Linked DNA regions of Homo sapiens: regions 2 and 3 are each linked to region 1. The links come from fine-mapping of genetic effects on gene expression. A gene starts in region 1. Each other region holds a variant in brackets. All regions are shown on one strand. Distances are from middle to middle. Region 1 holds the start of SSPN (sarcospan). Region 2 has its middle 24 kb from the start of BHLHE41. Region 3 holds the start of BHLHE41 (basic helix-loop-helix family member e41).

Region 1 (8,480 bases):
TCAGCCTCAGCCCCAGGGATGGGCCTGGATTGCTTCGGTTTGGTGGGGCTCCTGAACAGGGAAAACTGATATAACCCGGCAGGATATACCAGCCCTGAATCACTGCATATCCCAAAGGAAAAATGACCTTGGGGAGGCCACTCTCCTCCAAGTTCATTTTTATAAACCTCCAGAAAGATTCAGAAAGTACTGGACCAATCAAATACCACTGTGATTGCTAAAGAGTAACTTGGCTGAGAACAGAGAAAGGTGAGACGGCAAAACTGATATTTTCTTCAGGGTTCAAACTAGTCTTGGAAATGTAGCGAGTCAAAAATGATAGTTTTGCAAGTCTAGAGATGAAATAAAGCCACCTTTCCTCTGAAGAGTGACACTGCCTGTGACTGCTTCCCAAGCAGCTAATAAGTAAAGCTAACTCATTGAATCATGCCATTCGTTGGCACTATTTTAAGTGCTTTACATGTATTAATTTATTTCATCCTCAGGGCAACCCGAAAAGGTAGGAATTATTATCATTCTGATTTTGTTAGTAAAGAAATGGAAACCTAGAGAAGTTAAGTAACTTGTCCAAAGTTATTCGGCACACAAGTTAGCATACAAGTTATTTGGCACACAAGTTAGGTGTGGCGGTGCACGCCTGTAATTCCAGCTACTTAGGAGGCTGAGGCACGAGAACGTCTTGAACCTGGGAGGGGGAGGTTGCAGTGAACCAAAATCGTGCCACTGCATTCTAGCCTGGGCGACAGAGCAAGTCTCTGTCTCCAAAAACCCCCCCCCAAAACTCAAAGTTATTCAGCACACAGTGGCTGAGCTGGTGCTCAACACCAGGTGTGGTGTGTACACATCTGCACTTTGCCATCTGCCTCGTTATCTTTTCCCTTCCCTGAAAGCTTGGAAGAGTGCCCTGTGACCAACCACAGACAGAGTAGTGAGGACAAGCAGAGCATGGTGTCTGTGTGAGACAGTGACACATGCCCAAATTCTGGCCCTGCTAGGATGAGAGTTGTTCCTGGCCTGGCTCCTCAGAGACCCTCCTCACTAGTCTCAGGACATCTCTACTAGCTGCTCTCCTCTACATAGATTCTCAGTTGAAAGAAAATCTAAGATGACAGATTTCATCAGGGCTATGTACTGAGAGCAAACTTCAAATGAATCCTAGATGATAAAAAAGAAAACCAGAAAGAGCAGAGACCTGGCTGTATATAATGCCCTTTGTGCAACACCCAGGGAGCTTCCAGGGCAATTAGGAACATCATCTCCCACAGGAGCTTTAGTTCATAAAATTTCTGAGTTGCATGGTTTTTATGTTCATGCCTTAAACCCTAAAATAAGTTTTTTCTCCATCTAATTTGCCTCTTTGGTGCTGAGCTTTTGAAGCTGCAATAAAGGAAGGATGGGGAACACATTTGCAAATGATATTTAAAAACACTGAATGAAAGAGCTTCATTCTTTGTTTGTTTTAATTCCCCTGGCATTAAAGGACAGACATATTTTCCCCCTGGGTATGTGGATCGTCATTGAGGTGCCTGAAATACCCAGTATATCTTACTGAAAAGCTATTTTTAAAATCACTTGATTTAGAAAACTCCAATCATGGTAATTTCATGGGAATTCTTAGTACAAAAATTAAAGTTTTAAATTACTATGCAAAAATTGTGTATTCAAATAATCTTAATTAGGAAATACCTCCATCGATGCATATATATCAGGTCTCTCTAATGTCTGTCCCTGATACAAAATTATTTTGAGGGACGTTTTGTGAGTTACAGTTCCTGTGGTCAGTAATAGCAGTAAGGATGCAATATGAGACAAGGAGTCAAAAATGTCATTTCTAGTCTCTCTTGATTCGACCACATTCAATCTCTGGGCTTGAGAATGTCATCTAACTTCTCTTAGCCTATTTCCTCACATCCAAAAGGAATAACAGTTCCCACTTCAAAGTGTTGTTTCGTGGCTCAAATGAAATAATGCATGTGAAAGAGTTTAATATGCTACAAGACACTGTAATATAACATAATATTAAAGTTACAAACCAAATGTGGTGGCAGTGTGGTTCAATGAGGAAAACGCAGATATAGTCTAGCATAAAGAGGAATCAGCATGGCTGAATGCTTTACCCACTCATGACCCTGGGTGAGTCTGGCCTGGGTTCCCTCATTTGAGAAGTGAGAATGATTAAAACGATCCCATCAGGACGATGTGGGGATTAGAAATAATATGTGTCAGGCCTCTAGCAGGGCGAGCACACAGTAGGTATTCAGTAAGTGGCACCCGTTTTACATTAAAGAATTCATTTAATCAAGCCAAGTATGCTACATGTTTCAACACTCACAACAGCTGAGTACTGTTCAACTTAGAACAGTACATCCATCGGTGGAGTCCCAAATATACTTCTGCCATGGCCAGCGCCCTGGGTTTATCCCACTTTAGACTCCAGTGGATTAAGGCTGTGCTTGCTGTATTCGCATTTCCTGCCTTAGCCCATCATTTCAGGAAACTTACTAATGGAGCCTCAGTTTAAAACATAAAATGAATGCTACTCAATGTGGCAACTCCAAGTACAGGCTTTCTCCTCTCCTGCTTTCACTAGATGAACTTAATTCACTTTTTGCCACTTGTTTAAGGACAGGGGTGGGGTCTGGGTAACAGGATAAGGAAAAAGCCCGAATGAATCCGCTGTTGTTATTGAGGCTGTTCAGTCTGACCAAAATAAGCAGCTTTTGAAATGAACTCCCCAGCTCCAGAGCGTCAGAGTCAGGCCCCGTGGAGGCGCTGGGAGCCGCGAGCAGGAGAGGGGCAGGAGCCCTATCGCGTCCAGCCCTGCCCCGCCCGGGAAAACCCAGTGCCCCACGCATCAGTCACCGAGCAGAGCGCGAGTTAGAAGAGTGAACCCGGGGAAGGGCACATGCAGCTGGGTTAGTCTCAACTCGACCATGCGACTTCGCATTCCTGTTTGGCAAACGCGCTTAGGCAAAACAGACTTGATGCTTACAATGATCCCAGCCCAAAATGGAGTGTCCCTGACTAGCAGGGAGGAGCTGATGCTCGCCATGAGGAAGCCCACCACGGTCACGGCGATGCCCAGGGCCAGCTGCAGCAGGGCGAGCAGCAGCGGGAACCGGCAGCCGCAGCAGGTCCGGGGCTCCTCCTCCCCGCACTCCTTGGGGGCCCCCGTGCCCTTCTTCGGCTCCATGTCGTCGGGCCCAGCGGCGTCCGCGGCCGGCGGGCCCCCCTGCCTCTGCTGGCCGCGTGGCTGCTTGTTCTTGCCCATGGCGCTGCGAGGCTGGGTGGGTGGGTGGGTGCGTGTGCGGCGCCCTGGGCCCTGGAGCGCGGCGCACGGCTGGCTCGGCCTGCCCTGGTATTCGAATTATGGAGGCTGAACAAATATGGAAAACATTTGGAGCCGACTCACCGAGCCTCCAAAGGCCACGGGGAGCCCGCAGCAGAGGGGGGATTCGAGGGGGGTCGCCAACTGCCAACGCGCCGGGACGCAGCGCCTGCCGGGCCCCGGGCAGGATTTGCAGGTCGCCCGCGGAAACCGGCGCGGGTCCCTTGGCCGCCTGAACCTCTGCACTTCAGACAGGCTGCGAGTGCGCGCGTGTGCGAGTGCGGGGCGTCTGTTTTCCTCACTCAAAACTCCAGGATTGTTTTGGTTTTGCTTTCTGTGAAGTGCAATGCAAGGTGATGAATGTTGAAATCGTTTGAGCTTAATTAATACACAGTTTAATCCAAAATAGGCACTGCTGGGCTCTAAGCTGCGAAGTCATTTCCAGAAGTTAAGTCGTTGTTACTTTCCTACAGAGGCACAGGCTCTTTTCTTCCTACTTTCTGTAATCCAGCTGACAAATGAATAAAGGCATTTTTCGCATTTAGGTGTTTTTGAATCTTTCTAAAGATATTGGACTAATTGTGAACTCTCTTTCACATATGTTATTAATTATTATTATTATTTTCCAAACAGGGGCTCACTGTGTTGCCCAGGCTGGAGTGCATTGTCACCATCCTAGCTCACTGCAGCCTCAGACTCCTGGACTCAACAGCTTCTCTCTCCTCAGTCTCCAAGTGGCTGGGACTACAGGCAATCACCACCACATCTGGCTAATTTTTTAAAATTTTTTTCATAGAGATGGGATCTCATTATGTTGTCCAAACTGGTCTTGAACTCCTGGCTTCAAGGGATCCTGCTGCTTCAGCTTCCCAAAGTGCTGGAATTACAGGCGTGAGCCACCATGCACCCGGCCTCTCACGTGTATTTGTTTTTAAAAGCTCTGTTGGCTCACGCCTGTAATCCCAACACTTTGGGAGGCCGAGGTGGGCGGATCACAAGGTCAGGAGTTCAAGACTAGCCTGGCCAACATGGTGAAACCCCGTCTCCACTAAAACTACAAAAATTAGACAGGCGTGGTGGCACGCACCTGTAGTCTCAGCTACTCGGGAGGCTGAGGCAGGAGAATCGCTTGAACCTGGGAGGCAGAGGTTGTAGTGAGCCGTGATCATGGCACTGCACTCCAGCCTGGGCGACAGAGCAAGACTCCTAGTTAGTCTTCACTCATCTCCACAACAGTGCTTAGGGGGATTGGATTGACCATCTTAGAGATAGACGCTTTTACTCAGTCAATATTTAAGAGTTATTTTTAAAGCACCTACAATGTGCTAGGATATAAAGATGTTCAAAATAGACTTGGTCCTGGCCCAGAGTCACAGAAGAAATCAATAAAACTGATTATTCTTATTCCCGCATACCTCTACTCAGTAGCACTTAGAGCAAATTTCAGCGAAACCACTAAAAAATGATCCCATCACTTTGGGGGTATTTATATCTCCTTTGGTATGGTCATTGTAACATTCAGAAAGCTATATTCAAAAATAAGTGATGTTGCCAAGATGTTAGGATAAAGGCTACTCCTAGCTTGTTTGCTATTGGAAAATTTAAAGAAAATCCAATTCCCTGCTGTTTGCTTTAGAATTAGAAACTAATCATCATCAGCTCTTTTTGTAAACTGCCAAGTCCCCACAAAAGTAACTTTGAAGACAAAAAGTATGTACTTCACCCTTACTTATTTTATGAACTTAGGTGTTCTCCTTATGCCTTCCATCTGGACCAGTGAGAAAAATAATGGTTCAGGGAACAAATACATTTGCTTAGAAAACAGAATCTAAACCACACATCCCAGTTCCATGCAGAGGCAGTAGAAATAGCACTCACTCTTACCAGAAAAACAGAGTGGCTGAGGCAAGTTTATGGTCAGCTTTGGGGCCATCACACCACAAGGGCTTTCTATTGTGAACAGACAAATAAAAACTGGCGTTATACCAGGACACCCACCTGACTTGGGCCTGACTGAGAAGAACCCAAATGACAAAACAACAAAATGCTTGGTTTTCCTATGGAAATATGGTAAATATTTATAGAAAGTCAATTGACTACCTGGAATCAAGTATGTATTGTTATTAACAATATAGCTACCTATTACTGAGTATTCTGTAACAAACACATGACAGGTGCTTTACATATTTTATTGTCACCCCTTATAACCACCTTATAATTATAGTTTCCACTTTTAAAGATGAAAAAATTTGAGTATCAGAATTATTAAGTAATTGGATTAAAGTCACTAGCCTACTTATGAATGGGGGTAAGTGGAACCAGATGTGAACTCCAAAGCCAATGGTCTAAAGGATTAACTGCTTTATTAATTACTTCCTGTATGTATATTGCCTATAGGCAAACAAGTGGCTAGACTGTTTAAATTGTGATTTTAAACAATTTAATTATCATGGGTAGCATAGTATCTATAATACAGTGAATTACAAACTTAGACCTAGAGATGAGTACTTTACAAAAATATCTTGATTCATCACCATAGTATATATTTAATAGTCAGTGGAGACCATTATTCCTATTAGTACTAGTTTATAACTAGATACAAGTTCTATTTGCTGACCATACTGCCAAATTGTCATGCAATTAAAAGTGAAACATTTTTAGCCTTTTCCTCAAAACCTTAAATTATATGTAAGTTTAAATAGTCAAACAAGATAGTAGGATATTGCTATACATTTGTCTTCTGAGTTTCAGACTAGTGGCTTACAGTTGTAAAACAGTTGTACATATATACTTTTTAAAAAAGCTTACTTTTGATTGCCTCACTGAGACACATTACAAATGAAAGCAATGTAAATGAACAACATCCCAGACGCACTGAAATTCTTCTAGTCTGATTACAACTGCAGACTACAATTTTCAGCCTTTGGTGGTCTAGGGAAACTCACACCTGCTCAGCTTCCCAACAGCATGGTTGAATCTGTGTTTGAGGAGGCCTGGTCTTTGGTAATAACATAAGATGATAGTGACGAGGATGTCATTTTCACTTAATTGATATTTGAAAGTAGAAACAAAGAAAAGTTACTGTCAAATAGTGATAGAGAGTAATCAAGGCTAAAATAGATAAGACTGTCATTAAGGATACAACAAAGAAAACTCTTCCTTTTACATGTCCTTTCCACTGAGAAAAAATCATCACGTCTAGCTCATCATAGAGTTTAACAGAAATGAACTGGGTTTTTCAGTATTCATAAATTATGATGTCACTATTTTATAGGTTAAGCAATAACCTCTTCAGATATTTATATTACCGGGAAAAAAGGCGCAGTAGAAACAAAATGTTTTTGGATACTCTTGGCTGCTTCCATAATTCAAAACTGACAAAGATTGTAAATTAGAAATTGCAGGACAGTAGTTAATATATGGTTTAGATTATTTTGATCCTCTTGGGGGAGAAAACAAAATCAAGCCAGTATCTCTATCTTTGCAGACTATCTCAAACTTAACATTATTTTGAAGTATTTATGCATCAGAAGTTCAGAACGGGGAAGATGATAACTCTTTAAAACTAGTGTGATTAACAAAATGTCTTAGGAAACCCAACTAGAAATAATCTTTAAACCAACATATTCTCAAACACATGATCTTACATTCCCCAAGAACAAAAAAGGATTTCAGAAAAAAATTATTACATTTCCAAGGTCTATATCAAGTCTTTTTCATATGTAACTAAATCTATCTGAAATGTTCAATTAGATTTGATTTAAAGAAGTATCAAATACTCTGCAGAAAACAATTGGGAATTCATTTGTGATATGCAGGACCACTGCCCCCATATGCCTTGCTGGCCGCCATACCTAAAATGACTCTAGGGATATTGCTGACCTCTGTGTGTGTATTTGTGTGTGTGTGTGTGTGTGTGTGTGTGTGTGTGTGTGTGTAGAACAAATTAAAGCAACTCCTATTTTTTTTATTTTCTTTATTCCTATGTCATTAATTCTAAATGTGCCTTTGGGCTTAATTTTTTTCTCAGCAGAATTGACCCATTTATAATTTTTGCTTGCAAGTTTGTATTTTCAAGTTAAATATCATATGGACAATGCAATCTTTATGGTCAACAAAGGGCTTATGACTTTCTCATTCTCTCTCTCTCTCTTTCTTCCCTGGAGATGGGGTCTCACTATGTTGCACAGGCTGGACTCAAACCTGTGCTCAAACAAACCTCCCAGCTCAGCTTCCTGAGCAGCTAGGACTATAGGCACATGCCACCATACCTGGCTTAACTTTTTCATTCTCTGGAGGGCTATAGAGGTGATAAATTTCAATCATTTAATCATGCATTTCACCTATTTTTAAGGTGCTTTTTATAATACCAAATTTTTCTACATGTAATTTTGATTTTTCCACTGCATATGATACTGTAGAAATAACTAAATTTATTTTAATTGAGAAATACAGGAGAAGAATGGATAAACAAATTGTGGCATATCCATACAGTGGAATACCACTTGCTAATAAGAAAAGGGGTGAACTATTGATGCAGGCAATGACTTGGATAAATCTCATTAACAGTGTGCTGAGTGAAAGAAACCAGACACAAAATAATACATACTGCATAATTCCATTTGTATAAAAGTTTTAGAAGGCAAAATGAATCTATGGTAATTTAAAAAGTGATTGAGGAGTTGGGATGAGAGAATTGTCTCGAAAGGAGTAAGAGGTGACTTTCTGGGTGATGGAAGTAAGTCTTCTGTATCTTTGGTGATCATATGGGTCTTAGTTGTCAAAAGTCATTGAACAACACTTATGATCTGTGCATGTTATTGTATACAATGACATCTCAATTTTTAAAAGTGTAATAAAAAGAGAAATACAGGGAGTCACTGGATGTCCCTCAGTAATTAATAATAGAACAAGTAGGTTTTTTATAAATTCATCTCACCAAACTCTCCTAATGCCTCTACTGCCATTCTAGATCCTCTGTTTTAATTATCTATTGCTACAATAACAAATCACCCCAACATTCAGTGATTTGAAACAGTAATTATTATTTCATGGTTTCTGTGGGTCAAATATTCAAACAGCACACAGCAGGGATGGTTTGTTTCTTCCTGTTATCTCTCGACTCTCAGCTGAAAGACTTAAAGACTGGAGG
Region 2 (8,480 bases), 94 kb after region 1:
AACTGGGTACATATTAGCCATTTCATTTTCTTTCTACCTACATAAGACGCATCCATCTCTAGAGAAATGAGGATATGTGTTTATGAATTTTATTTCAATTTTAGAGTCCAGAGAAATTTATGACATTTTTATAATACAGTGATTTTTTTAAATGTGTAGTCCCATTTTAATACCAATGTCAGTGTTACTAAATAAATGCCATTCATAACATTTAAAGAAGGAAGAAGAACTCCACATATCTGGCTTTGAAGGTGGAGGCCGGGGGCCAGCACTAAGGAATGCAGGAAGTCTCCAGAAGCCAGGAGCAGCCTTCAGCTGACAGCAAGGAAACAGGGACCTCCGTCCTACAAGGGAGCCTCCCCTAGAGCCCTTAGAAGGGAACACAGACTGTCCTCTTCGATTTTAGAATCATCTTGATTTTAGTTTGATATGACTCACTTTGACTCTCTGACCTACAGAATTATAAGAAAATGAATCTGTATTGTCTTATGCCACATGAAGTGTATATGGGAATTCACCCTATATATACTAAGCCAGTAAGTTGTGATTGTTATGGCTGCAATAAAAAATGAATACACTAGGCCTCACTGAGATAGTAGGAAAGTCTTGAAGGAGGTGAGAAAGGGGGCCATGAGGAAATCAGGGGGAAGAGTGTGCCAGGCACAGAGAACAGCAAGTGCAAAGGCCCTTGCTAGGAGCATGCACAGCACAACCAAGGGACAGTCAGGAGGCCAGTGTGCCTATGATAGAGTGAGCAAGGAATAGATTTTAGGAGAAGACATCAGCATAGGAGGATTTGCCTTCTCTGTTGTGAAATCGGACTGATTGCACTTCCTACCCAAGCTGGGAGGAGGAGAACCACCTTGCCCTTTATCTGATTGAGAAATTAGGTGCTCAGCCCTAAATCCTGTCCCCCACTGCCCAACTCCGTTCACTCGAATGGTAGTTTTGAAGCATCCTCATTTGTTTGGCTACTTCACCAATAAGGCCAACTCTTATATAGTTGGCCCTACCAGCCATCTCCAAATCACCCATTTCCAGGACATGGTTATCAGACCTGATGAGGTGGCTTGCTGTGGCTCTGCCCACTTTGAAGGTCAGCATGGCCATACTCCTTTATAAACAGTAATCTTTCTTATACCTGCCTCTCGGAGATTAGGATTCCTTTCCTGAAAGTTGGTTACAAGAGCCCCGATGTGCTGGTTTTTCTCATAGGATTTAGCATCAACCTGCAAAACATATGGAATTTTCAATATTCAACTCTTCACATTGTGGTTTTAGGCGTTTTATCTTTCTGGCTTTGGAGAATAGATATTTTGGCAGATGTAAAGGTGATTGGCTGTCTCTACATCTGTCAAGCTCCAAAGCACTGTTACCAAGCATCAGAGACCATATTTCAGGGAATATTTTCCTTCTATTTTAACTGAGTCTGTGATAAACTGGATGTGATTTGCCTTAATATTGACAGTTTCTGCCCAAAGCACATGTGATTGGTTTGGGTTGAATGACCGCCACCCTTTCTCTCATGATGGGAGAATATGTGCTCTCCAGCTTGTACAGAGAACAAAGTAATTGAACCAGAATAGGATGAAAAGAATGTCTCCTTATTTCTATTTTTGTATTCTCCTGAAAGTCCCCAAGTTGAATACTTCTGATGTATTTACATTTATTGTTCCTGTTCTTGAAATTGATGTAGGGTGGGCATTGGGTCCTGGCTAATTATTAATTTAAGTACCCCCAGTACCTACCACCGTGTCTAGCATCCAGTAAATATTTTTAAAATTAATTCACTCAACCATCCCCTCATAAAATGAACAGCCTTTCTACATTTTTTATGTCTCTAATATTGGAAATTGGTAACATTTGGTGGCATTGACCATTTATTATGTACCCGATAAAAGCATTCCATTATCCTTTAATTCATTGGTTGAAAATAGTTTGGAGGAAGTGTTAGCTCATGAGAATAATATACTCTTAATTTATTAAACATTTATAGTAAATTAACAGAAAAACTTAAACAAAATTTAAAAGTGAGCCCAAAGGGATGAATTGATGAAACATTTTATCATGTTTTATAACTGAAAATACAGTCTCCTAGATAGATACATTCAGTACCCTGTGGGTGAGGAGATGTGGTAAAATGGGTGTGAAGTAACTGATCTCAGTAACACTCCTCTTTCTTTAGTAACTGAGGCCTCCGTGTGACTGCAGACATCAACCGAGTGCTCATAGCTTCCTCGTGATGCCTGGCCAGTGTTATGATACTAGGCAACCCAGTGTCTCAGGACCAACAGCGGAATAAACTTTGGCAGAGATCTATACGAGTTATTTCCTTTCTTACACTGCACAATTTCCTAGACATTCAGCCACCCTCTCATCATCAGACCTGCTGAAATCCATAATAAGCAACAGGCTATTAGATAAAAATAGTGGAATAAAACTGCAAATAACATTCTCCCCAAAATGCAGAGATGTCTGTCCTCCGGGAATATTTTATTCAGCTCTGGCGGCTATAGCGAAATACCATAAACTGGATGGCTTAAACAACGAATACTTATTTTTCACAGTTCCAGAGTTTGGAAGTCCAAAATGAGAGTGTCAGCTGGCTGGGGTTCTTCGTGAAGGCCCTCTTCCAGTTGCAGACAGCTGACTTCTCACTGTATCCTCATATGGCAATAAGAGGGTTCACTAGCTCTCTGGGGCTTCTTATCAGAGCACGAATCCCATTCATGAGGGTTCTACCCTTATGACCTTATTAGCTCCCAAAGGACCCACGTCCAAATACCATCACATTGGGGATTTGATTTCAATATATGAATTTGGGGGTAGGGGGCACAAACATTCAGTCTATAACATAAAGGATGGAAGATTCTCATCCTGTGATCTCCTCTTTGGACCAGTAGTATTTGCTTATTAAACCTGGACGGATTTCCAAGTGCAGCTAAGTACACTTGACATGTTAATTTAAGGATATTGCTTAAATCCAATTGTGCTATCTCCAATATTCATCTTCAACAGAGAAGACATATCTAGGTTATACAAATCCTACATGTCATCTAGAGAAAGGTAATGTATCCAGAATGTACAAATTGCAAGTTATCATCAGATAATTGTCTGGGCAGACAAAGCAAAGGCAAAAAACAGCTAAGGTCCTGACCACAGAACTCTGCTCTCTTAAGCTTTGTGCTCAGCATAACTCACCCCATTCTGCTTGAGTGTTCCTCTTGTAAATTCTGCTTAGATTCAAAAGACCAGGGGTTCAAATCCTGGCTCTACCACCTAATTGCATAAACATGGGAAAACCACTTATACATCTTTTTGTCTGTTTCCTTATCTATAGAATGGGGATGGTGATAAGATAAGGTCCACCTTACAGCATGCTGGGGTTCTGAGCTCGTTGAATGTTAAAGTCCTAAACAAACATTAGTTGTAATTGGTTCCTAGAGGGCAATCTCATCGACAGCATGAAATCAGAAATGAGACAGCTTCGCTCATGAGTCTCACTCATCAGCTTTGTGACATTAAGCAACTTACTTCTCAAAATTTATGTTTCGTCATCTGTAAAGAGGATGATTTTAATGAGAGTAGCATCTCTGTAGGACAGTTACAAGCATTAAATGACATAATCTAAGACCTCCTGCATGTCTTTTTGGGGGAGTTCAGTGGTCATGCAATACACTATGGAGAGACTAGAAGGAAGGCAGACAGGTGCAGTTTCCATTTGGCATCATGGGTCAGCATGCCCCAGTGGCATCAGGGTTCTTTCTTTGGCTGCAGAGCTGCATTCCCATGCTATGCTAATAACCTCTGCAAAACACAGTCGACCTGATCTTCCTGCTCTTTCCAGATAATGTGACCAACCTTTAGCCACCACTTGCTCACTTACCCGATAGGTTGTAAAACCAGTTTTTTTGGCATCTTGCCACCTCATCAGTGCTCACCTGCATATTTTTTTTCTGGGTTAGAGGATCATGAGTTCTTGGGTTCGCTGTGGTCAGAGTCAATAGCTGTCTATCAGGAAGTTGCTTTATTAATGAGATAATTCAGAATTTCTTCCGGAACTTCAATCTGTTGCTGGGTAACAACCTGTACCTAAAATCTACACAGATCTTCAATTATCGCTTAGTTAGGAACATGCTAGGATTGCCCGGCTGTCAAACACTCTTAATTGCACTAGGACCGGTTAGTATCTCATGCATTTGGAGCACAAAAGCACTGAGCAAAGCATATGACTGTCTGGTCAAGTCAAGCCCGCCGTTCCAACATTAGGCAATTGTTTCCATGAACAGTTTTCACGCTTCTGATATGGAAAAGAGATATGATCATGGCTATTATTTGCTTTGTGTTTCTAATATGCTGAGCAGTGTTTTAAGCATATAACAACTGCTAATTCATTTAATTTATGAGGTAAATGTTATCATATAAAGAAACCTATGTGCTCAGAGGTTAAGCAACATGCTCCTAGTCATACAGCCACCCTTCACTAGGCTATTTTGCCTACTGTTATTTCAAAAGCTGGGGACAGGGGAAATAACATTAATTTGTTTCTCATAATGGCAGAAGACCGTTTCTTTCTGTTACTAAATTTACTATGAAGAATTTCATTGCAAATAGTTATGCAA[G/A]AGACCTTTTACAGCTATACTAATTTAACAGTGATGTAATCTTGATTCTAAAAAATATATATTTGGGTCAGAAAGAGTCTCACCATTTCCTTTATTGTATTTTCCCCCAATATGAAAATTGTTTTGTAAAGTTTTAGCATTTTTTCCCTTTCATATCTACTCTGATTGGCTTTCGGGACCAATACGAGTTACAAATTAGATGCTTCCAAAATATCTAGTTGAACATTTCACTCAGTCAATTGTTTTGTTGCCTAATGTAATATCCATTTGTTCCCCCAGAGAGAGATTTTCTTCAGTGTAGCAATGATTTTGGTGCTTTTCAGACACGATCAATTTAATAGCAAAATGCCTTACACCTCACAGGTACATAGTAATACTTAACAAATGAAATAATGAATGAGTTAATATGAACTTTTGACAATCCTATATTTATATCCACATCACATAGGAATGCTCAGCTTACAACTGTCTTTTAAAGAACATTATTAATCAGAATAAAACTTACTTCATGGGCCTAGCTACTAATAATTTCTTATTACTGACCATTTCCTTCTTTTAAGTGGTAGGATGGATAGGAAAGAGGGAGGAATAGTGAGGAATTCACAAATGAAAGAGAGACCCTTAGAATCTTGGTTCTCAAGCTTATGAGAACTAAAGGTCCCCTTTTATAACAAATATTTTCTTATGCTCCTTTACTAGCTTAAAATGAAATTTATAGAAAATATAGTCTGTAATGCACATTAATTTTAAAAAATATAACTATCATATATCAATAATATTATTAAAATAATGTAATGCCTTAACTTTGATATAAAGGAGAAATAAAAGAAATTATATATATAATTATATATAATAATATATAAATATATATATATTTAAGTATGGAAAGGCACAGATGGTAGCTATGCTACAAAATGTAATGAAGTAGTCAGGTGCTTATACTGTTAATATATTGATGCCAATATATTACCTTCAAGTTGACTCTTCTTTTCATATTTGACATTTTGAATAAAGAATAAAAAGTATATTTAAATGTATACTTAGAACCACCTTGAATCAAGAGCTACAAACACAGATTGTTATCAGTTTATTCTATTGGTGACTCAGTTCCAGAAGTTAAGATGCTCCTGTGAAATGAACTTCAAAGATGGTTAACAAACCTGGGTAAAGTTCTGAGTTAAATAAAGCATAATCTCTCCTCAACTCAACTGGTAGTTGTATTCTTGGAACACTCAATTTTATTAAAATGATGCTAGGGCTGTGAATGGTGGCCTGCATCTGTAATTCCAGCACTTTGGGAGGCTGAGGTGGGAGATTGCTTAAGCCCAGGAGATCAAGGCTGCAGTGTGCCATGATCTTGCCACTGCACTCCAGCCTGGGCATGAGATCTTGTCTCTAAAAACAAAAAGAGAGGAAAAAAAACCATGCTAAAAACAATTTATGCTTATATGTAAAACAGATAGGGCATTAAACATTGTGAGAGATAGGACAATAATTTTTCATTGTCAAGGGTTGACCTATGCTCTGTAATATGTTTAACATCCCTGGCTCTCTCACGCATATTTTTAAAAATTAACATTATTTTAATTGACAAATGATAATTTTATACATTTATGGGGTACAATGTGATGTTTTGATATAGGTATACAATGTGGAATGATTAAAACAGGCTAATTAACATATCAATTACCTCACTTACCATTTTTTGTTGGGAGATATTCTAAATTTATTCTCTTAGCTACTTTGAAATATACGTTATTATTAACCATATCACCCTGATATGCAATAGATCTCGAAAGATTATTACTTCTGTCTAACTGAAACTTTGTGCCCTTTGACCAACATCTCCCCATACCCTCTCACTCCTTCTCCCTTAGCCTTTGGTAGCCCCCACTTTACTTGTATGAGTTCGACTTTTTTAGATTCTACATGTCAGTGAGATCATGTGGTATTTGCCTTTCTGTGCCTGGCTTATCTCACTTAGTATAATGTCCTCCATGTTCATTCATGTTGTCACAAATGGCAGAATTTCCTTCTTTTTTAAGGCTGAATAGTATTTCCCTGTGTCTATGTACCACGTTTCTTTATCCACTCATCTGTCGATGAACGCTTAGGTTGCTTCCGTAGTTTGGCATTCACATTCTTGTGAATAATGCTGCAGTGAACATGGGAATGCAGATATCTCTTTTGCATGTTGATTTCAACACTTTTGAATACATACCCAGAGGTGGGATTGCTTGATCATATGGTAGTTCTATTTTTAGTTTTATGAGGACCCCCATACCATTTTCCATAATGGCTGTACTAATTTACATTCTCACTAACAGTGTAAAGGGTTCCCTTTTCTCCACATCCTTGCTAACATGTGTTATCTTTTGTATGTGATGTAGTATCTCATTGTGGCTTTAATTTGCATTTTCCTAATGATGAGTGCTGTTGAGCATTTTTTTCATGAACTTATTGGCCATTTGTGTGTCATCTTTTGAGAAATGTCTGTTCAGGTTCTTGGCCCATTGGTAAACTTCTTTGTTTGTTTTCTTGCTACCGTTTTTCCACCATCTTAAAAGGAAGTAGTTCCTGTAATCACTGAGACCACCAAAAACACCCCTGCAAAATTTCAAATACTATCTAGTAGATGGAACTGTCTCAATTGAGAACCACCACCCTGAAGGTTTATAGTAAGCTGGGATAAAAAGAACTTCTTTATGAAATATTGCCAGAGAATTTGGAATTCACAATAGTGGTTTCTTAGCATGTTATTTAATGGGACTTTCAATCTACATTTTCATTAAATTTGTATTTGGAAAATTGTGTTGGAACAAATGAATGCTATATTGCAAACTATATTTGAGCCAACTCAGTTGTAGGACAATGCTATTCTTATTTTAGCACAAACTGAATAACTCTCCACATCTTTGCAAATATACCCATCTTCACACATTCTGGTTTTTTTTTTTTTAAATAAAGTCTGGACTTCTGGATTCTTGTTCATAGTTAGGACAACCTGATTCTTTAATAATTCAAGCCAAGCTGAGTGAGTGTGGATTTGTAAAGACTGAGTAATCCCTTGACTCAGCAGTTTCCCTCTAAAATCTGTACTCTTCATGAATTACAAAATTAACACTTGGTATCACTCGATAGCTTAGTGTTCTCAGTGCAATGAGTTGTTCCTTTTGATCAAATCCATAGTAGATAAAAATTACCAATTACTACTAGGCTGTACAGAGAAACTAAGTTTAAAAAGATCTTTCAGACCATGTTACTTTGTCACTTCAGAAATGAGCCATGGAGTGTGAGCAGATAAAATATGTTCAATTGCTATTTCTTTATTGGCAAAGAAACACCTTAAATCTTCAGAACGAGCGGCCCATTCTCTTTCAGAAACACTGCAGCAAAGCAAATTAATATAAAGATAAAAAGAAAACTTCTTTAGTAATGTGTTTTCCTTCATTTTTTCAGGATCTCTTCAAGTAAGGATTCACCTAAGGCGCAGCTTTGGAGCCCTGGAAGGTGGCTGGACGGTAGCTGCTGCCCCCTAGTGTAAGACTCGTTGTTACTGCAGACATTGGATTCTTGAAATAACCAGGGACTCTCCCTACCCCCAGGGCCAAGTGAATGGGAAGTAAATTAATGTGCTTTGTTTAAATGATAGAGGTAATTGAGAAAGTTATAGTATATTATTCTTTCAGAATGAATAGTTAGAACACTTTTTGCTGACTCCCTGCAGAAATAGTCGTTTAATGTTTTTCTGTCATTGCTTCAAGTTTAATTTTCTCATCATTTTCTGCTTTTCTCACCTACAAGGTGGCTACAAAATTTGCAGGACCCAGCACTAAATGAAAAATGTGATGCCCTTTG
Region 3 (8,480 bases), 73 kb after region 1:
GACATTCGGACCCAGTGACAACGTTTTCATGTATCTTAAATCCTTCAAGGAGCGGATTGCAAGTTGCTTCTTCTCGAGGCAACCTCTCCACCCAGCGCCAAGGAGTCCCTCCAGGCCACTGATCAGTGAGCAAACAAGTCTCCAAAATTTCCTTTGGGACTCAAGTTTACCCACCGCGAATTCTCTTTTCACTTCCTTTCTATGGTTCAAACCAACAGCACAATCGGTGGAAAAGCAAAAAGCCACGTTCACATTCCTGCACCGTAACAACGGACGAACCCAGGGAGTCGCATTTTGGAGCCAAGGAAGCTCAGGCTGCCCCGCACCCCTGCACCCCCACTCCCCCCTCCTCCTGCCGACTGCATCGCCTTTGGGAAGATGAATAGCTTGGCCGAAGTTGTTTTTCCTTTCCGGTGGCCCTGATCAGGTGTCCCCGCCCCCTCCTGCCGTTCGCCTTCTCTCGCCGCCTTCTCCCGACGCCCCCGCCCGGCCCGGCCCCTCCTCCCCCGCCCCCCTCCGGGCTGGACCGCGGATGGTACGTTCCGCACGTGAGCTGGGTGCTGGTCTGGCCGGCGACGCGCGTGCCCTGTGGCCAAACACTGCCTGGAGTGAGAGCAAACTACCAGCGCAGTGGGGCCGGCGCGAGTGTGCGTGTGTGTGCGTGTGTGTGTGCGAGCGCGGTGGAGGGGGGGGACCAACTGCTTCACACTTTCAACACTGCACTGAAGAGGGAGAGCGAGAGAGAGACTGGAGACGCACAGATCCCCCCAAGGTCTCCCAAGCCTACCGTCCCACAGATTATTGTACAGAGCCCCAAAAATCGAAACAGAGGAAACGAACAGCAGTTGAACATGGACGAAGGAATTCCTCATTTGCAAGAGAGACAGTTACTGGAACATAGAGATTTTATAGGGTAAGGTGCACGCACCCTTGCGAATATCTGTCTAGGCTTTGGTTTGATTTTTTTCTTCTCCAGAAAGTGGTATGGAGCTGGCGAGGGCAGAGCCCCTCCCCGAATGGGTGCCTGATGCTGATTTCTGTTTTGCAGACTGGACTATTCCTCTTTGTATATGTGTAAACCCAAAAGGAGCATGAAACGAGACGACACCAAGGTAAGTGTAAGTTCCCGATATTCCTCATAACCTGCATGGGTAGTTAATTAGAGCCATTGATTTCACAGTGAAGCTCTGCCCGCAAATATATTCCAGCCCCTGAGCTTCCCCAACTGTGAATTTTAAGTGGCTTGCTGGGTACTCTCAGGGGGATATTAAACATCATACCTGAATTTAAATTGCATTGCAGAACAGTCCAGAGGAAAGAGGTTTCTTGGGTGTAGTTTATCACATAGTATGTTTTATGGTGGGGGGGCGGGGGGGGCAGACGAGGGTAATATCCAATAAGTGAATGTTTCGCTTACTGTTTTCTCTTTTCCATGACTCTCATATATTAAGGATACCTACAAATTACCGCACAGATTAATAGAAAAGAAAAGAAGAGACCGAATTAATGAATGCATTGCTCAGCTGAAAGATTTACTGCCTGAACATCTGAAATTGACAGTAAGATGCACATTTTCATTCTTTGCTGCTCTCCAAGGGCGTGTTAATAGTCTGGTGCGACTCCCAGAAAATATAAGAATAAATGTAAATATAAGTTCCTGACTTAAAACTTGTGCTATACCGTACAGAGTTTCCCGCAAACTGGAGTAGGTGCTCCCAGCTGAAGGCAAGAAATCATTTATAACCTGTCTTGTGGAAAGCTCAAGAAGTAAAAGAACAGTACTTCTTTCAAAGTGTTTGCTTAAATTGCTGTGCTGAATGGACAGCCAATTAAGCCAAATGTGTGTTTTTAAGTAACCAAGTGCCCGTTTCTTTTTTGCACCACTGCAGACTCTGGGACATCTGGAGAAAGCTGTAGTCTTGGAATTAACTTTGAAACACTTAAAAGCTTTAACCGCCTTAACCGAGCAACAGCATCAGAAGATAATTGCTTTACAGAATGGTAAGTCAGTTCAGGGAGGCCAGCCTACCCTGATGAAGCGGGGCAGCCCACAGGGGAGCAGTGTCAGGACTCCCTCACCCGCACCCCATCTCTTTCCGTGGGCTCATGGGTTCCCTCTCATTTGTTAAATTGCTTATACTTTCCCTTCATTGGAACGAGCCCATTTCCCGAAGCATCCTAGAGGCTTTCAGCAGAACTCGGAGGAATCAGGATTTAAAGTGGCGGTTGCACCCGCTCCACTTTGGTTTTCAGCTGGGAGGAGAGCGCCCTCTCCCCGCTCCGCACCTCCGCCACCCCGCTTCTCTCGTCAACTGGTGGATTATATCACTTGAATACTGGGGAAAAACCGAGATCACTTTAGTCGATGCAGGGCCCACGTGATAAGCAGATGTTTTAACGTGGGTATGTTTCTTCTTGCCTCCACTCCTCCGTCCCCCACCCCCATCCCTTCCTCATCCTAGGGGAGCGATCTCTGAAATCGCCCATTCAGTCCGACTTGGATGCGTTCCACTCGGGATTTCAAACATGCGCCAAAGAAGTCTTGCAATACCTCTCCCGGTTTGAGAGCTGGACACCCAGGGAGCCGCGGTGTGTCCAGCTGATCAACCACTTGCACGCCGTGGCCACCCAGTTCTTGCCCACCCCGCAGCTGTTGACTCAACAGGTCCCTCTGAGCAAAGGCACCGGCGCTCCCTCGGCCGCCGGGTCCGCGGCCGCCCCCTGCCTGGAGCGCGCGGGGCAGAAGCTGGAGCCCCTCGCCTACTGCGTGCCCGTCATCCAGCGGACTCAGCCCAGCGCCGAGCTCGCCGCCGAGAACGACACGGACACCGACAGCGGCTACGGCGGCGAAGCCGAGGCCCGGCCGGACCGCGAGAAAGGCAAAGGCGCGGGGGCGAGCCGCGTCACCATCAAGCAGGAGCCTCCCGGGGAGGACTCGCCGGCGCCCAAGAGGATGAAGCTGGATTCCCGCGGCGGCGGCAGCGGCGGCGGCCCGGGGGGCGGCGCGGCGGCGGCGGCAGCCGCGCTTCTGGGGCCCGACCCTGCCGCCGCGGCCGCGCTGCTGAGACCCGACGCCGCCCTGCTCAGCTCGCTGGTGGCGTTCGGCGGAGGCGGAGGCGCGCCCTTCCCGCAGCCCGCGGCCGCCGCGGCCCCCTTCTGCCTGCCCTTCTGCTTCCTCTCGCCTTCTGCAGCTGCCGCCTACGTGCAGCCCTTCCTGGACAAGAGCGGCCTGGAGAAGTATCTGTACCCGGCGGCGGCTGCCGCCCCGTTCCCGCTGCTATACCCCGGCATCCCCGCCCCGGCGGCAGCCGCGGCAGCCGCCGCCGCCGCTGCCGCCGCCGCCGCCGCGTTCCCCTGCCTGTCCTCGGTGTTGTCGCCCCCTCCCGAGAAGGCGGGCGCCGCCGCCGCGACCCTCCTGCCGCACGAGGTGGCGCCCCTTGGGGCGCCGCACCCCCAGCACCCGCACGGCCGCACCCACCTGCCCTTCGCCGGGCCCCGCGAGCCGGGGAACCCGGAGAGCTCTGCTCAGGAAGATCCCTCGCAGCCAGGAAAGGAAGCTCCCTGAATCCTTGCGTCCCGAAGGACGGAGGTTCAAGCAGAGTGAGAAGTTAAAATACCCTTAAGGAGGTTCAAGCAGAGTGAGAAGTTAAAATACCCTTAAGGTCTTTAAGGGAGGAAGTGTAATAGATGCACGACAGGCATAAACAAGAACAACAAAACAGGTGTTATGTGTACATTCGGAGTTCCTGTTTTGCTCATCCCGCACCA[C/A]CCCACCCTCCACACACTAACATCCCTTTCTTCCCCCCACCAGCTGTAAAAGATCCTATGCGAAAGACACTGGCTCTTTTTTTTAATCCCCCAAATAAATTTTGCCCCCTTTTAGGCCATGTTCCATTATCTCTTAAAATTGGAACCTAATTCGAGAGGAAGTAAGAAGGGTCTGTTCTGTGGCTGAGCTAGGTGAACCCCGGGGTAGGGGAAAGATGTTAACACCTTTGACGTCTTTGGAGTTGACATGGAACAGCAGGTAGTTGTTATGTAGAGCTAGTTCTCAAAGCTGCCCTGCCTGTTTTAGGAGGCGTTCCACAAACAGATTGAGGCTCTTTTAGAATTGAATTTACTCTTCAGTATTTTCTAATGTTCAGCTTTCTAAAAGGCATATATTTTTCAAAGAAGTGAGGATGCAGTTTCTCACGTTGCAACCTATTCTGAAGTGGTTTAAATGGTATCTCTTAGTAACTTGCACTCGTTAAAGAAACACGGAGCTGGGCCATCGTCAGAACTAAGTCAGGGAAGGAGATGGATGAGAAGGCCAGAATCATTCCTAGTACATTTGCTAACACTTTATTGAGAAATTGACCATGAATTAATGGACTCATCTTAATTTCTTCTAAGTCCATATATAGATAGATATCTATCTGTACAGATTTCTATTTATCCATAGATAGGTATCTATACATACACATCTCAAGTGCATCTATTCCCACTCTCATTAATCCATCATGTTCCTAAATTTTTGTAATCTTACTGTAAAAAAAAGTGCACTGAACTTCAAAACAAAACAAAAAACAACAACAACAAAAAACAAGTCCAAACTGATATATCCTATATTCTGTTAAAATTCAAAAGTGAACGAAAGCATTTAACTGGCCAGTTTTGATTGCAAATGCTGTAAAGATATAGAATGAAGTCCTGTGAGGCCTTCCTATCTCCAAGTCTATGTATTTTCTGGAGACCAAACCAGATACCAGATAATCACAAAGAAAGCTTTTTTAATAAGGCTTAAACCAAGACCTTGTCTAGATATTTTTAGTTTGTTGCCAAGGTAGCACTGTGAGAAATCTCACTTGGATGTTATGTAAGGGGTGAGACACAACAGTCTGACTATGAGTGAGGAAAATATCTGGGTCTTTTCGTCAGTTTGGTGCATTTGCTGCTGCTGTTGCTACTGTTTGCCTCAAACGCTGTGTTTAAACAACGTTAAACTCTTAGCCTACAAGGTGGCTCTTATGTACATAGTTGTTAATACATCCAATTAATGATGTCTGACATGCTATTTTTGTAGGGAGAAAATATGTGCTAATGATATTTTGAGTTAAAATATCTTTTGGGGAGGATTTGCTGAAAAGTTGCACTTTTGTTACAATGCTTATGCTTGGTACAAGCTTATGCTGTCTTAAATTATTTTAAAAAAATAAATACTGTCTGTGAGAAACCAGCTGGTTTAGAAAAGTTTAGTATGTGACGATAAACTAGAAATTACCTTTATATTCTAGTATTTTCAGCACTCCATAAATTCTATTACCTAAATATTGCCACACTATTTTGTGATTTAAAAATTCTTACTAAGGAATAAAAACTTTAATATACGATATGATATTGTCTAATAATTAAAAAAGACATAATGGATGCTCAATTAGTTTTAAGATATCTATAACTATAGGGATACAAATCACTACAGTTCTCAGATTTACAGCTTTTTTTTGTCATTGGCTTGATGTCACACATTTCCAATCTCTTGCAAGCCTCCAGGCTCTGGCTTTGTCTACCTGCTCGTTCCCAATGTATCTTAATGAAAAGTGCAAAAGAAAAACCTACCAATTAACTTGTGTGGTTTGTTTATGTTAGACCCAATTTTCTATTGTTTTAATGATTGACAAGTTTTTCAGTTTTCGTCTGTGACATCACATAGCCTCTCTAGTATGGTCAGGTGTTCCTCTTTCACTGGGTCTTGTATAAATAGATGATCACAAAGGGGTGCTTAATATGAGAGTGTTTTGGCTTCTTTTTATAAAATAATTCTGTCATGGGACTTTATCATGGAATTCCAGGATCAGAAATAATTTCTAGACTTTTCTCAAATTTCCATTCAAATCTGTGATATGATACAAACAGTGAAGGATTGTCAGCTTTTAGTTTCAGGAATGTTCTTCACAAACCCCTTGATTTTTGAAAATGTTTAAATGAGAGTCAGATTGTATAAGATGTAGAAAAAGTGCTCCCTCTGCTGACTTTATGGCAACTGAACTGCAAGTCATAACAGTATGAAGCCAGAAGGAGCCACAGCTCATCCAGTCCCCTGCATTTCGTGATAGGAAAAAAAGAAAGGAAGCCCAGAGATATTAAGTATCTTCCCAAGGTCACAGAGCTACCTAGAGTCAGCACTAGCACTAGTGGCCAGCTCTATTATATCCCTCAGTCACTCAACTACTTCCCATTGCAGTATCTTGGACCAAGTAAGCTGAACTTGATTGAGCAGCCCCCATGAAGCTTCGTAACAAACCATAGAACAAAGGAAATTGAAATCAACACTAGAAAACTATGTAGGATTTTTCAGCATTGTTAATTTATTGAACTTTAGAAAAATTATCTGAATCAGAATAATGGGAAAAACAGCATTTCAAATATTTTGAGCTATATTTTGATGCCACTACTGTAGTAATATTAGTTTCATAACCAAAAAGGATTAAAAGTGAATCAGAGGATAATACAGTGTTTTTAGCATGTGTATAATTTTGGTATAATGAGATAAAAAAATCTTCAGAGTTGGGCCAGATTTTACAAGTCAGTTATTTAGTCCAAGTGCCCATATGGTAACATGGTAAGATAAAGTTAGAACAGAAATGCAAAAATAATATTGTCTATATTGTATCTGAAAATCTGAAAAAACTTTATTTTAGTCATTGATTTATTTTAATGAATTAAAAGGCTGAAGTCATAATTCACTAAAGAGGCTTCTATACTTGTAGTGGTGAAATTTCAGCTAAAATGATTTTCCAACTTCAGGCAAATATGAATCTTGAGTCAATGTTTTTATGAGTATAGTATTATACTCATAAAAATTTAATTTTACATACATATATTTTACATAATCTTTAAAAAGATTAATTTTATATAACACATTTCTTAGCAAACTTTATATTGAATTGAAAAAAAATGGCCCTTCCCTCCCCTCCAAAGAGCTAACCTTAAGCACGTTTTCAAGGCACTAGAAACAACACTTTAATAGCTATGTAAAATTTGGAGTTTTAGTTCCTATCATTGTGAAACTATTTTTCATTTAGTTCCCTGTTTCTGGCCATCCAGGCGATGACTTTGGTTATTGCCCACCACCCGAGATTTGTTCAAAAGTTATGTAAAAGGAGGCTCAGCCTACTCCTTTCTATGTCACAGGTCAATTCTTAACCTTTCCATGGAAAGTGATTGCCAGTGGAGCCTCTGGAGAGACATGGCTGGGCAAACACACGAAGGACTTTTACATTAGCTAGAAATGAACAGAGCTCTCATGAATGACTTAAGACCATTATATTGCCAAAAGCTGGCTGTACTGTTGTGATCATGGTATTTTACTTCAGGTAGCAACCTGATATTTTTCATTAAACAAAAATTCTTAACCTATTGGACCCTCAGCTCAATATATTTAGACCCACCCATTGTTCTCACTGTTATTTTAAACAAGTTCAAGATGGATTTACAGTGCATGCTAAAGTCCCATGGAAGTTCTAGTTTTTCATAGAAGAATTTAAGTAAGGGATTGACGTGGGAAATTATCACATATTTTGTGTGATTAAGATGGGATTTATACTAGAAAACATGCGCAGCATGTACTTTAAAAATATGCTATTCTAGGAGTTGTACGTTTGTCTTAAAATCGGGTTTCTTATGCTCGTTCAGAGATTCCATATTGAAAACTCCAAACAAATATAAAACCACCTTTTTTAAATGTTGATATTTTAAAATTCTAAATTCAGTGATGCCTAGTTTGTCCGACAGGAGGGACAGTCAGTGGTTTAGAAAACTAAAACTTCTATGTTCAAATGCCAGTGCTGTTTTTCATTTTTGAATTTTTAGTGGAAAGCATACTAAAATGTATTACACATATCCTCTAAATGTCTTAACCTGGACATACTTAACCTTTCTCAATAATTCAGGGTCATCATTGTAAACATCATTTTTGCACTATGCATGACATCTGGGAGTAATTGCACCTGCACCAAATTTTTTTTTGAGTTCTACCTGCTTTTTATAGGGTTTTTCAGTCTCTTTACGCACAGCTAGCCTGTCAGCTGTCACTTCTTGAAGCCTCAGAGTGCTTCCTCCATCTCTTATCTAATTTGCTACCTCTGACTTACTGTGGGCTGGGAAACCATTTAAACACTACCACGCCCATTTGAAATGTGCTAAAATTAGAGTAAATAGGCTCTGACAGAGGACCTGAGGGTTTGTTCTACAAGTAAGTTGTGTGAATTTGTAGAATCTGTGACCTTTTTTATTTCCTTTAACTTCCAGATAGATTCTCAGCTTTTTTATTTCCTTTAACTTCCAGATTCTCAGCGATGCTTCTTATGCAAATGCCTTCAAGATTACTTATGCAAATGCCTTCAAATACGTTATATATTTTGCCATCATTTTATTACATAAAAATAAAAGCAACTTGCTAATGGTTTTAGCCCACAACTAACCACAAAATAAACAAATTT

What was found. PIP is the estimated chance that this variant, and not a neighbour inherited with it, causes the effect.
Region 2: its variant is fine-mapped to the expression of SSPN in whole blood (INTERVAL, PIP above 0.99).
Region 3: its variant is fine-mapped to the expression of SSPN in whole blood (TOPMed, PIP above 0.99).

The regions. Positions count from the first base shown.
Region 1 is chr12:26,190,464-26,198,943 of GRCh38, reverse strand. It overlaps SSPN (sarcospan), which reads right to left and starts at 3,371. Exons shown (of 3, transcript NM_005086.5): 1 at 2,993-3,371. The coding sequence starts at 3,271.
Region 2 is chr12:26,096,916-26,105,395 of GRCh38, reverse strand. No RefSeq gene overlaps it. Among named protein-coding and RNA genes, the nearest start is that of BHLHE41, 24 kb to the left of the region's middle. RefSeq lists a silencer at 8,201-8,270. The variant G/A (reference allele first, on the strand shown) is at 4,623.
Region 3 is chr12:26,117,151-26,125,630 of GRCh38, reverse strand. It overlaps BHLHE41 (basic helix-loop-helix family member e41), which reads left to right and starts at 594. Exons shown (of 5, transcript NM_030762.3): 1 at 594-913; 2 at 1,049-1,112; 3 at 1,452-1,559; 4 at 1,890-2,001; 5 at 2,463-5,601. The coding sequence starts at 852. The coding sequence ends at 3,565. It also overlaps a transcript of SSPN not described here. The variant C/A (reference allele first, on the strand shown) is at 3,769.